2 separate regions of the Homo sapiens genome follow, and region 2 is linked to region 1. Evidence: fine-mapped expression QTL. A gene starts in region 1. The other region holds a variant in brackets. All regions are shown on one strand. Distances are between the middles of the regions. Region 1 holds the start of CRIP3 (cysteine rich protein 3). Region 2 has its middle 24 kb from the start of CRIP3.

The links. PIP is the estimated chance that this variant, and not a neighbour inherited with it, causes the effect.
Region 2: its variant is the best candidate, but not a certain one, in a credible set for the expression of CRIP3 in whole blood (INTERVAL, PIP 0.56).

What each region holds. Positions count from the first base shown.
Region 1 is chr6:43,305,889-43,311,269 of GRCh38, reverse strand. It overlaps CRIP3 (cysteine rich protein 3), which reads left to right and starts at 2,444. Exons shown (of 8, transcript NM_206922.3): 1 at 2,444-2,520; 2 at 2,861-2,955; 3 at 3,374-3,431; 4 at 3,527-3,658; 5 at 4,753-4,824; 6 at 4,957-5,051; 7 at 5,146-5,203. The coding sequence starts at 2,478. It also overlaps the pseudogene RPL12P47. RefSeq lists an enhancer at 2,927-3,784.
Region 2 is chr6:43,329,671-43,335,051 of GRCh38, reverse strand. No RefSeq gene overlaps it. Among named protein-coding and RNA genes, the nearest start is that of CRIP3, 24 kb to the right of the region's middle. The variant G/A (reference allele first, on the strand shown) is at 3,358.

The sequences.
Region 1 (5,381 bases):
TATCTTCCCATAGAGAAGCTTCGAACCCATTAGTGGACATTTCCAATTCCATCTCCTTGACTGGCCAACCACTAATCTACTGTCTGTCTCTGTGGATTTACCTATTCTAAATATTTCATATGAATTGATTCATATGATATGTGGCCTCTTGTGTCTTGCTTTTCTTACTTAATGTTTTTATGGTTTACCTGTGTTGTAACATGCATCAGTATTACATTCTTTTTTACAGTTGAGCAATATTCTATCATACAGATATACTACATATTGTTTATCCATTATCAGTTAATGAACTTTTGGGCTGTTTCTACCTTTTGACTATTGTAAATAGTCCTGCTATGAACATTCATGTACAAGTTTTTGTATAGACATATGTTTTCATTTCTCTTATATACCTGGGTATAAACCTGGAAGTGGAATTGCTGAGTCATATGGTAACTCTATGTTTAACTTTTTGAGGAACTGCCAGACTGTTGTCCAATGTGGCCACACCATTTTATGTTGCCACCAACAATGTATGAGGGATCCAATTTTGCCACATTCTTGCCAATATTTGTCTCTTTAATTATAACCATCCTAGTCAGTATAAAATGGTATCTCATTGTGGTCCTAATTTGCATTTCCCTAATGACTATTGATATTCAGCATCTCTTCATGTGCTTATTGGCCATTTGTGTATCTCTAGAAAAACATCTATTCAAATACTTTGCTCACTTTTAATTGGGTTGTCTTTTTGTTATTGCATTATAAGTTATTTATATAATCTGGTTACTAGATCCTTATCAGATTTGCAAATATTTCTTCCATTCTCTGGATTTAAATTTCTTGAAATATCCTTTGAAGCACTATTGAACTACTTTTTTTTTTTTCCACCAGTTGTCAAATGATCCTTTATTGAAATATTTTCCTTTGTGCTTAACTGGCTGGGCATTCCACAGAACCACTGTTGATATCATCTATGATGTCATGAGGGTGGCGGCCATCAACATTACAGCCCACAGACTGGGCAGTCCCCAGGATCTCTTTAATGGTGCCAGAGAGTCTATTGAACTACTTTTAACAAATATTTATCTGGGCATGGGGGCATATACCTGTAATCCCAGCACTTAGGGAGGCCCAGGCAGGTGGATCGCTTGAGCCCAGAAATTCGAGACCAGCCTGGGCAACATGGCAAAACCCCATCTCTACAAAAAATACAAAAATTAGCCAGGTGTGGTGGCATGTGTCTGTAGTCCCAGCTACTCCAGAGGCTAAAGTGAGAGGATCGCTTGAGCCGGGCAGGTGGAGACTGCAGTGAGCTACGATGCACCACTACATTCCAGCCTGGGCAACAGAGACCCTGCCTCAAATAAATACATTCATTAAAAACACAAATATTTAAAAATTTTAAAGCAAACCAGATTAGAAATGTGTAGTTGGTTTTCATTTTTATTTATTTATTTATTTTGAGATGGAGTCTCGCTCTTGTCCCCCAGGCTGGAGTACAGTGGTGCGATCTCGGCTCACTGCAACCTCCACACCTCCCGGTTCATGCGATTCTCCTGCCTCAGCCTCCCGAGTAGCTGAGATTACAGGCATGCGCCACCACGCCCAGCTAATTTTTGTATTTTTAGTAGAGACGCAGTTTCGCCTCGATGGCCAGGCTGGTCTTGGACTCCTGACCTCAGGCGATCCGCCCACCTTGGCCTCCCAAAGTGCTGGGATTACAGGTGTCAGCCACTGTGTCCAGCCACCCTACAGCTTTAGGAGTAAACGATTGTATACAGACCATGTTCTGAGGCTTCCAAACCGAGTCTTGAGTTCATTAAGGGATCCATCATAGTGATAGCTATAGCTGTTACAGCGTTTACATGCCAGGCGCTGTTTGGGCACTCTACATGTATTAACCTATTTAACTCTCATAACAATCCTATGAGGCAGAGACTGTTATCATACTCATTGCACAGATGAGAAAATGGAGGCAGAGAGGGAGGTTCAGTAATTTGCCTGAAGTCAAAGAGTAGGGTACCAGAGACGGGCTCCAGATTTTGTTGCTTTCAACCACTTGCTATACTGCCAAGGTGGAATTTTGCATTTCAAAGAATGCCTACTCCCTCGCTTTGGAGAGAGTAGTGTTTTAATGATGTCTGCACTGTGGACATTTTTCCTGTCCTTACCGCTCCAGAAACTAGTAGAGCTCCCTGTCCAGGTGTCTTCGTTACACATGTGCCTTCCTAGTCTGGAGTCCACGGCTTCAAGATCCTCTCTCCTCCCCGTGGGTCTGACCGAGGCTTTAATGCTCTTTGAAGTAACAGCGAAATAGCCCTTTGTCTCCCAAGTGGAGTGGTTCTAAATTTCTGATAACCAATGAGCGCCGAGGAACCGCGGATTCCGCCCAGGGAGGCTCAAAGCTGAGCCGTGGGTGGAGCCTGCGGAGGGGGCGGAACTGAGCCGCAGCGGCGTACCTACTGTGTGCCGCGTGCGCTGCCTGGAGCGGAGCTATGAGCTGGACCTGTCCGCGTTGCCAGCAACCTGTTTTCTTCGGTGAGGCCCGGGCTGCGGAGGGGGAGAAGATGGGGCGAATGGGAGCCGCTGGATTCCCTGAGGACGCGGAGGGCTAGCCACAGTGTAGTCCCAGACACCCTTTTCACCTGCAGCGGCTGGTAGTCTCCGCACCACCCGCTCCCACTCGGGTCTTCTCCCTTCCTCTGAGAGCTCTGTGGGGAGTGTGAAACCGGAGCGGGATGGAGCTGGCCTCCTGGAGACACTCATCTCCAGGAAGCAGGGCAGGCCAACCTAATTCCCTAGAGGGCCGAAGAGGGAAAGGAGGGGCCCTATGCTTGGACAGGCTCCTCGCAGCTCGGTTCCACTTTGTCCTCCACAGCTGAGAAGGTGAGCTCCCTGGGCAAGAACTGGCACCGCTTCTGCCTGAAATGTGAGCGCTGCCACAGCATCCTGTCCCCTGGCGGGCATGCAGAGGTAAGACCTGGCCAGGGAGCACTGCCCTGTTTACATCACTGCCTCCCACCCCCCAGGCACCAGCCCCCAACTTCAGCACTGGAGGCCTGCCAAAGGGAACCTCAGTAGCCAACCCCAAGGCCGCCCACCTGGTGGACCCCACACCAGCCAGGAATTTGGGAACCTGGGTCGTGACTGTGGATCCCATGGTTTTGGGGATCAGGGTGAGTGGGAAGCAGCGTCACCTTCTGAGCTGCTCTTGCTCTTCCTCCCTTGACCACAGTGGAAATGCTGGCATGCCAGCCCATCCCCCACCCCTCCCAGGCCCACCAGACTCAGCCAGTGGACAGACACACCTGGCAGCCTGTCTGGGGTGAAGGCCTGTGGGGCATGGCTCCCGCTGGCCTTGAGTAACCCACTTCCCTCTGCTTGTGCCCAGCACAATGGGAGGCCATACTGCCACAAGCCATGCTATGGGGCTCTCTTTGGACCCAGGGGTAAGTACCAGCCTTAAGGGGCCATGGGTCAGCAGAACCCTCCTTGTGGCTGGGAGCTGGGGGCTCAAGCCTGACCTCCCCTATTCTCTCTTCAGGGGTGAACATTGGTGGTGTAGGCTCCTACTTGTACAATCCCCCCACTCCCAGCCCTGGCTGCACCACTCCTCTCAGCCCCAGCAGCTTCAGCCCTCCCAGGCCAAGGACTGGCCTCCCCCAAGGCAAGAAAAGTAAGGCTGGGCTCAGCTCCTCCCAGTCCTCCTCCCGACCCTTCCCCAAGCTGGAGCGGAGGTTGGGCCAGGTGGCAGTCTCCTATCCAGCCCTCTGCTTCACATTCTCACAACTTCATTCTTGGCAAAGTCTTCTCTATCTACTCCCCGCTTTTTTTTTCTTTCTTTCTTTCTATTCCCTCATGTGAGCTGCTGAGTTAAGAGGTAAATTGTTGGGAGGCCGAGGCAGGTGGATCATGAGGTCAGGAGTTCGAGACCAGCCTGGCCAGCATGGTGAAATCCCATCTCTACTAAAAATACAAAAATTAGCCAGGTGTGGTGGCTCATGCCTGTAATCCCAGCTACTTGGGAGGCTGAGGCAGGAGAATCATTTGAACCCAGGAGGCGGAGGTTGCAGTGAGTCAAGGTCATGCCATTGCACTCCAGCCTGGGCAACAGAGCGAGACTCCATCTCAAAAAAAAAAAAAAAAAAAAAAAAAGAGGTTAATTGGGCAGATGGCATTATCCCCTCTCCTCGTGTGTTACAGGTGAGGAAAGTGAGATCCAGACAGGGCAAATGACTGTCCATCCACAAAGCTAGTCAGAGGCAAAGCTGGCCAGGAACTTAGGTCTGTCCCAGGCCAGGGCCATGGAAGGAATGATCTAAAGGAGAGGAGTCATTGGGATAAGGCCAGCCTCTCATATTCTTCAACTTTTCTCCTCTGGTCCCTGTTCTTTCCCTCCATTCCCTGAAGTAGGCAATGACACTGTGCTCCCCAACACCTGACACCCGTGCTGTGGCCAGCTCCTATATCAGCTCAAGTTTCCTGAGGATTGAGTTGCTAACAGGGTTGGGATGGTGGGTACGTGAGCCCCTGGGAGGATGAAAAGGAAGCAGGAGAAGGAAGCAGATAGTCCCTAATACACATAGGGATGGGGCAGGAGGTGGAGTCAGAGGGGGCTCAGCTCTGGGCCTGTAGAAGGCAGACTCTTGGGCGCCTGGGTGGGGCACTCTGGAATGAGCATGGCTTTTGAAAGAGGACAGCACCATATGCAGGCAGGTGCTGGTGGGCATCTCCACCTCAGACATAGCCAGGGCCTCTTCCCCTTTAAAGGCCCTCCCCATATGAAGACATTCACTGGGGAGACCTCGCTGTGCCCTGGCTGTGGGGAGCCCGTCTATTTTGGTAAGTAACAGTGGAAAACTTGGGGAGGGGGATACAGGGTGGGCAGCAAGGGGGAGGGAGGTGATCCAAGGCAGGTAGGTCTCCCTACTCTACCCCTAGAATGGAAGCATTACCACTTCTTTCCACCACCAGCTGAGAAGGTGATGTCATTAGGCAGAAATTGGCACCGACCGTGTCTGAGGTGCCAGCGTTGCCACAAGACCCTGACTGCTGGGAGTCATGCTGAGGTGAGCAGGGCAGGAATGAGTGGTTATGTTGGGAGGAGGCTGGAGATGGGAAGAGAACCAGGCTGAGACAGCTCTCTTTCTCTCTGTGTCTCAGCATGATGGAGTCCCCTACTGCCACGTCCCCTGCTACGGCTACCTGTTTGGCCCCAAAGGTGGGCAGCCCCATCCCAGACACTGGGATGGCATGTACATGCCTGAAGTATGGCATGTACATGGTCTGTGGGTATGTGTGGACAACTTCCCCTGTGGTTAAGCATACCCTGGCCCCCCCACCAAGTTCCCTCTAGGCCTGAACCCTGCACCACAGACCCAGGGCCTTTGGTGATAGGG
Region 2 (5,381 bases), 24 kb before region 1:
CCTGTTCACTTAGTTCCACTTCCCTTTAGGGGGAGACTGATGGTTTTAGAGAAAGAGTTGGGAGGAGGTAACCATATCAAGATCCCAATCCTAACCTTACTTCCTCAGAGGGCATTGAAATCTTACCCTGTAGGTTAGGAGGGGGCTACTTGAGTGAGAAGAGAAAAAGAGGCAAAATTTATTGTAGGAAGGGCAGAACTAGTTCAGGTAGCTAGGGCTGGAGTACTTTGAGCCTAAGCTTTGGTAGTAACTCCTCTTGTATTCTCTGGATAACTTCAGGATTTACACCAAAGGCATCTACCAATCCGGCTTTTTCAAAAATAATGCTCACTTAAGAGTTACGGGAGTGACATTCTTTATATCTTCCTTGAACCAGCAGAGGGAGAACTTTGAGGATTCTGTATTCTGGGCAGGAAGTGTTGCTGCCTCCTTCCTTTTGGTTAGTGGGATCTAGCTTTGGAACCTATCCAGAGAAGACAGGTGAAAGGAAGGACAGAATTCTAACCCAGTAGCTGGAGATAGAGCATATTTTTTTGTTGTTCTCTACTATCACAGTACTGAATAAACTTTCAACTTAGGAGACTTAGGCACATGGAAGAAATGGGCCCTGAATTTTAAATGCAGCTTATGGTGTAATATAACTATGTTTTAAATTTTACAAACATCAGGAACAACTTTTATCAGATATCCTCAATTGTGAGAAGCAGATGATCAGCAATTATGTTTAAATTTGGGCAAATACCTAATTTTACCTAAGGTGTATAACCCGCTAAAAATTCCCCCTGGCCTTGCAAATGGGGGGCTTCCTGCTTTACAAGCCATATTATATTCACAGGGCACATAATATTCTGCTAATATTGCTGAATAATATAGTTAAGTATTACTTCGCCCATGACACTTCATCTTTCTAAAAAGTCAGAAAGTTAGTATTTTGGTAGCAGAGCATGCCAGCACATAGTCAATTTATCAGTCTGCCAGATTCCAGGACTGAGGAAGAATGGGGTGGGGAGGTGGACATACAGGACACATGCATCCAATAGGAACATAAAGTGTAATTTTAAAAATTGGAGGAGGGTTCAGAGAGGATGTAGCCTGTAACAGAAATAAGTGAGGTAGTTTCTTTTACATATATATATATGTATATATGTATATAGTTTTATATATACTATATATAGTATAGTTTCTTTTATATATATAATATAGATAATATATATATAAACATATATAGGCAAGCTTTGTTGATATATTAATATATATCCCTAAACCTTGGTTCTCACCTTAACAAAGCTTACATACTAAATCTAGGATAAGAACCTAAACAAAGTCTTCATTTATTAACGATTTATGTGAGAACATGGACAAATAGTTTTGTGAGCACATCTCTTTAGAGTTTAAAATTGCAGTAATTTTTATGTAATTTTTAACTAAGTTGTGTATACAATATTCATCGATAAGCCACGAAGTTGAATTTATAATGAAAATCTTCTACTCTTAAAATCACAACTCTCCTGATTTGCCCTCAACCCATATACACTTCCAGAAGAATACATATAAAACATGTATGTTTATGTTGTAGCATTTAATGTGGTTGTAATTTTACATTTATGTTTCTTTGATTAATATATGCTCCCCTTAAGTACATGATAAACTCCCCAAAGCAAGAAGTCTGTCTTTGCTTACTATTTTTTTAATCATTGTATTCACAGTGCACAGTTGTCTGGCATATAGCAGGTACTCAATAAAAATTCATTGAAAGAATCAATGTGGTAATAGTAGCTGTTTTTATTAACAAATTGTGAATACTTAGCAAATTATAAGTCAGTAAAAACTGTAAATTGCCTATTGTATTTTCTGGGTGTTTAGCACTCTAGAAGCCAGCTGTCCTCTTGCTTCTGTCCTGGGTCTTTGTATACAAAGCACTGTATCATTGAGGCATGTCAAGGTTGCCATTGGTTCCCTCACTTCAACAGCATTCTGGAATAATGGCACCAGGCCATGATGGGAACACTGCTTCTGCAGCTCCTAGAAGAGAAACTGAGGATGAGAAGGAGTTAAACTGACCTTACAGTTAGCAAAAACAAAAGGTTTTGGGGATCCAGTTTTCAAATGGCCTCCTTTTTCCTTCCAGCCAGACTTCATAAGCATGCTGAAGTCAGTCAAACCCCAAACCCCTCTGATTTGGTTGAAGAAGTAATTCAACAGTTTATGGTCTCCAGCATCCTCTTGTCATCTCATCAAAACTAAATCGTAACCAAAAAAGGTTGCCTTTGGGAGAGGGAAAAGGAATGCTATCACTTTTTATTTTGTATCTTCTGTTTTGTTTCAACATTGTGACCATGAAAATGCATTTTCTATAAAATATAAATGTTTTATAAACTATACACATGCACACACATACATGTATAAAATGATAACATGTAGTAAGGGTTATCCAGTGCTGTGGAATTATAGGCCAGTTTTTTTTTTACCCCTCTGTATACTTTTCTGTATTAAAATTATTTTTTTTAAGTTGTGTCTCTCCTACTCAGTGCATCCCTGTTTTCCTTCACACCTCTTGTCTGTTTTCCATCATTACAAATAGGTCCTGCTGCTTTTCCCTCAAGACTTCCTAAATTCTTCTATTCCCATCGATGCTGGGCAACATACCTTCTTCAGGAATGTCTTACCATTCTTTCCTTCTTCCTCTCTTCCTCTTCCCATTCTTTCCCCAACCTCTGTTGAACTGGTTGTTCATATTCATTAATGTTGTACAAGCACTTGGACATTAAATGATATAAATCAAGATACCTGTTTCACAAAGTAATACAGGTACACAAAAGATAAAAAAAGTCTGTCGCATGCAAAAGGACAGAAGATAACATCTAGATGTAATGATTTAAAGATTTACAGGCTTTGGTTCCATTTGTGGAGGATTAGGCAAGAAAGAAGTTTTGTAGAAAATAAGGGAAATGAGTATGTTTAAGGGAAGTGAACGAACAGGGTGAAAACAGAGGCAGAGTTACATAACGGGAGAACAAAAGGTAGAGGATGTGGAGAAAGCAGAGATAAAATCAGCCATATTAAGATATTATTTTATTTCGTCTCTCTGACACTCTGTCCCTGCTAAGTTTCCACCCAGCCTTCCTGTAACCACCTTCCTAAGGATGACTATGGTCACATTGTTACAGACTCTCACCCACTTATCTTCCTTTCTTTTCAGGGGCAATTCCAAAAGTCTTCAGATTTCCAAAAGGAAGGACTGCAGCAGACATTTCTGCCCCCAGAAAGGCAGGGATAGAAACCACAGAGGCCACGGAAATGATGGGTGCCCTTGTGGCCAGTAGGCAATCACCTGAAGGATCTGACTTCCAGAAGGTG[G/A]GTATGACTGATGGGGGTGGGGATAAGTTGTAGAGAAGATCCTGTCATTTTAGCTGCCAGGAAATGGTGAGTTGGGTGAGTGAATGTGTATATTGTTGTACCTGTAGAGGATGAACAAGATTAGAATGTACATAGAGGGTATGTATTTTAGACTTGCCACTCCTCACCTTATTTAGCATTGAATAAATTATTCCTGAAGTCCCATATCTCATTTTGTGCCATGATACTTACATTAAAGCTGTAGAGTTCAGGTCTTCATATTCTTCCTGGGCCCTAGTCTCCAATGTGCCCCTAAGTAGAACATCTCTTATCTCAGTTCTAGCCTCTTTTATTGGTCCATACAAAGACAAAGTAAAATTGGGTATGTCCTTAGAAGATTGGGGTATGAGTAAGCAAAGGAGACTCAGTGAAGCGGGGACAATCACAAAGGAGATGTTTGATCCTTCAATATCAGACTTCAGGGCAGCTGTCCACCAGTTTTCACTCTGTCTTGTACTTGTCCCACACACATTGAAACCTCTGGTACACAGTAGCAGGCAAGCATCATTTCAAAACACCAAGGAAACCCCTTACTCTCTGCTCATTTAAAATGCCAGTAGAGGACCAGGCATGGTGGCTCATGCCTATAATCCCAGCACTTTCGGAGGCTGAGGTGGGTGGAATGCTTTGAGGCCAGGAGTTTGAGACCAGCCTGGCCAACATGGTGAAACCCCATCTCTACTAAAAATACAAAAATTAGCCAGGTGTGGTGGCGCACACCTGTAATCCCAACTACTCAGGAGGCTGAGGCAGGAGAACTGCTTGAAACTGGGAGGCAGAGGTTGCAGTGAGCCAAGACCATGCCACTGCACTCTAGCCTGGGCAACAGAGCAAGACTCCGTCTTGAAAAAAATAAAATAAAATCCAAGTAAGGGCTGGGCATGGTAGCTCACACCTATAATCCCAGCACTTTGAGAGGCCGAGGTCAGCAGATCAGTTGAGCCCAGGAGTTCAAGACCAGCCAGGCAACATAGTGAGACCCTGTCTCTACAAAAAATAAATTAGTCCGGCATGGTGGTCCATGCCTGTAGTCCCAGCTACTCGGGAGGCTGAGGTGGGAGGATCGCTTTGAACCCTGGAGGTTGAAACTGCACTGAACTCTGATTGCACTATTGCACTCCAGCCTGAGCAACAGAACAAGACCCTGTCTCAAAAATAAATTTAAAAAAAACTAAAAATGGGCCAGGCGCGGTGGCTCATGCCTGTAATCCCAGCACTTTGGGAGGCTAAGGTGGGTGGATCACCTGAGGTCAGGAGTTCGAGACCAGCCTGGCCAACATGGTGAAACCCTGTCTCTACTAAAAATACAAAAATTAGCTGGGCATGGTGGCATATGCCTGTAATCCCAGCTACTTGGGAGGCTGAGGCAGGTGAATTGCTTGAACCCGGGAGGCAGAGGTTGCAGTGAGCCTTGATTGGGCTACTGCGCCTCAGCCTGGAGGACAGAGACACCAACTCAAAAAAAAAAAAAGGGCTGGGTGTGGTGGCTCATGCCTGTAATCTCAGTACTTTGCGGGGCCAAGGCTGGCAGATCACTTGAGGTCAGGAGTTCGAGACCAGCCTGGCCAACATGGTGAAACCCCATCTCTACTAAAAATACAAAAAATTAGCCAGGGGTGTTGGCAGTCATCTATAATCCCAGCTACTTGGGAGGCTGGGAGGCTGAGGCAGGAGAATCGCTTGAACCTGGGAGGCAGAGGTCACAGTGAGCCAAGATTGCGCCATTCCACTCCAGCCTGGGTGACAAGAGCGAAACTCTGTCTCAAAAAAAAAAAAAAAAGAAAGAAAGAAAAAGAAAAAAGGAAAAAATGCTAGTGGGTACCTTTTTTTTTGGAGGGGGGACAGAGTCTTACTCTTTCGGCCAGGCTGGAGTGGAATGGCGCGATCTCAGCTCACTATAACCTCCACCTTCCGGGTACAAACAATTCTCGTGCCTCAGCCTCCCGAGTAGCTGGAATTACAGGCGTGTGCCACCATGCCTGGCT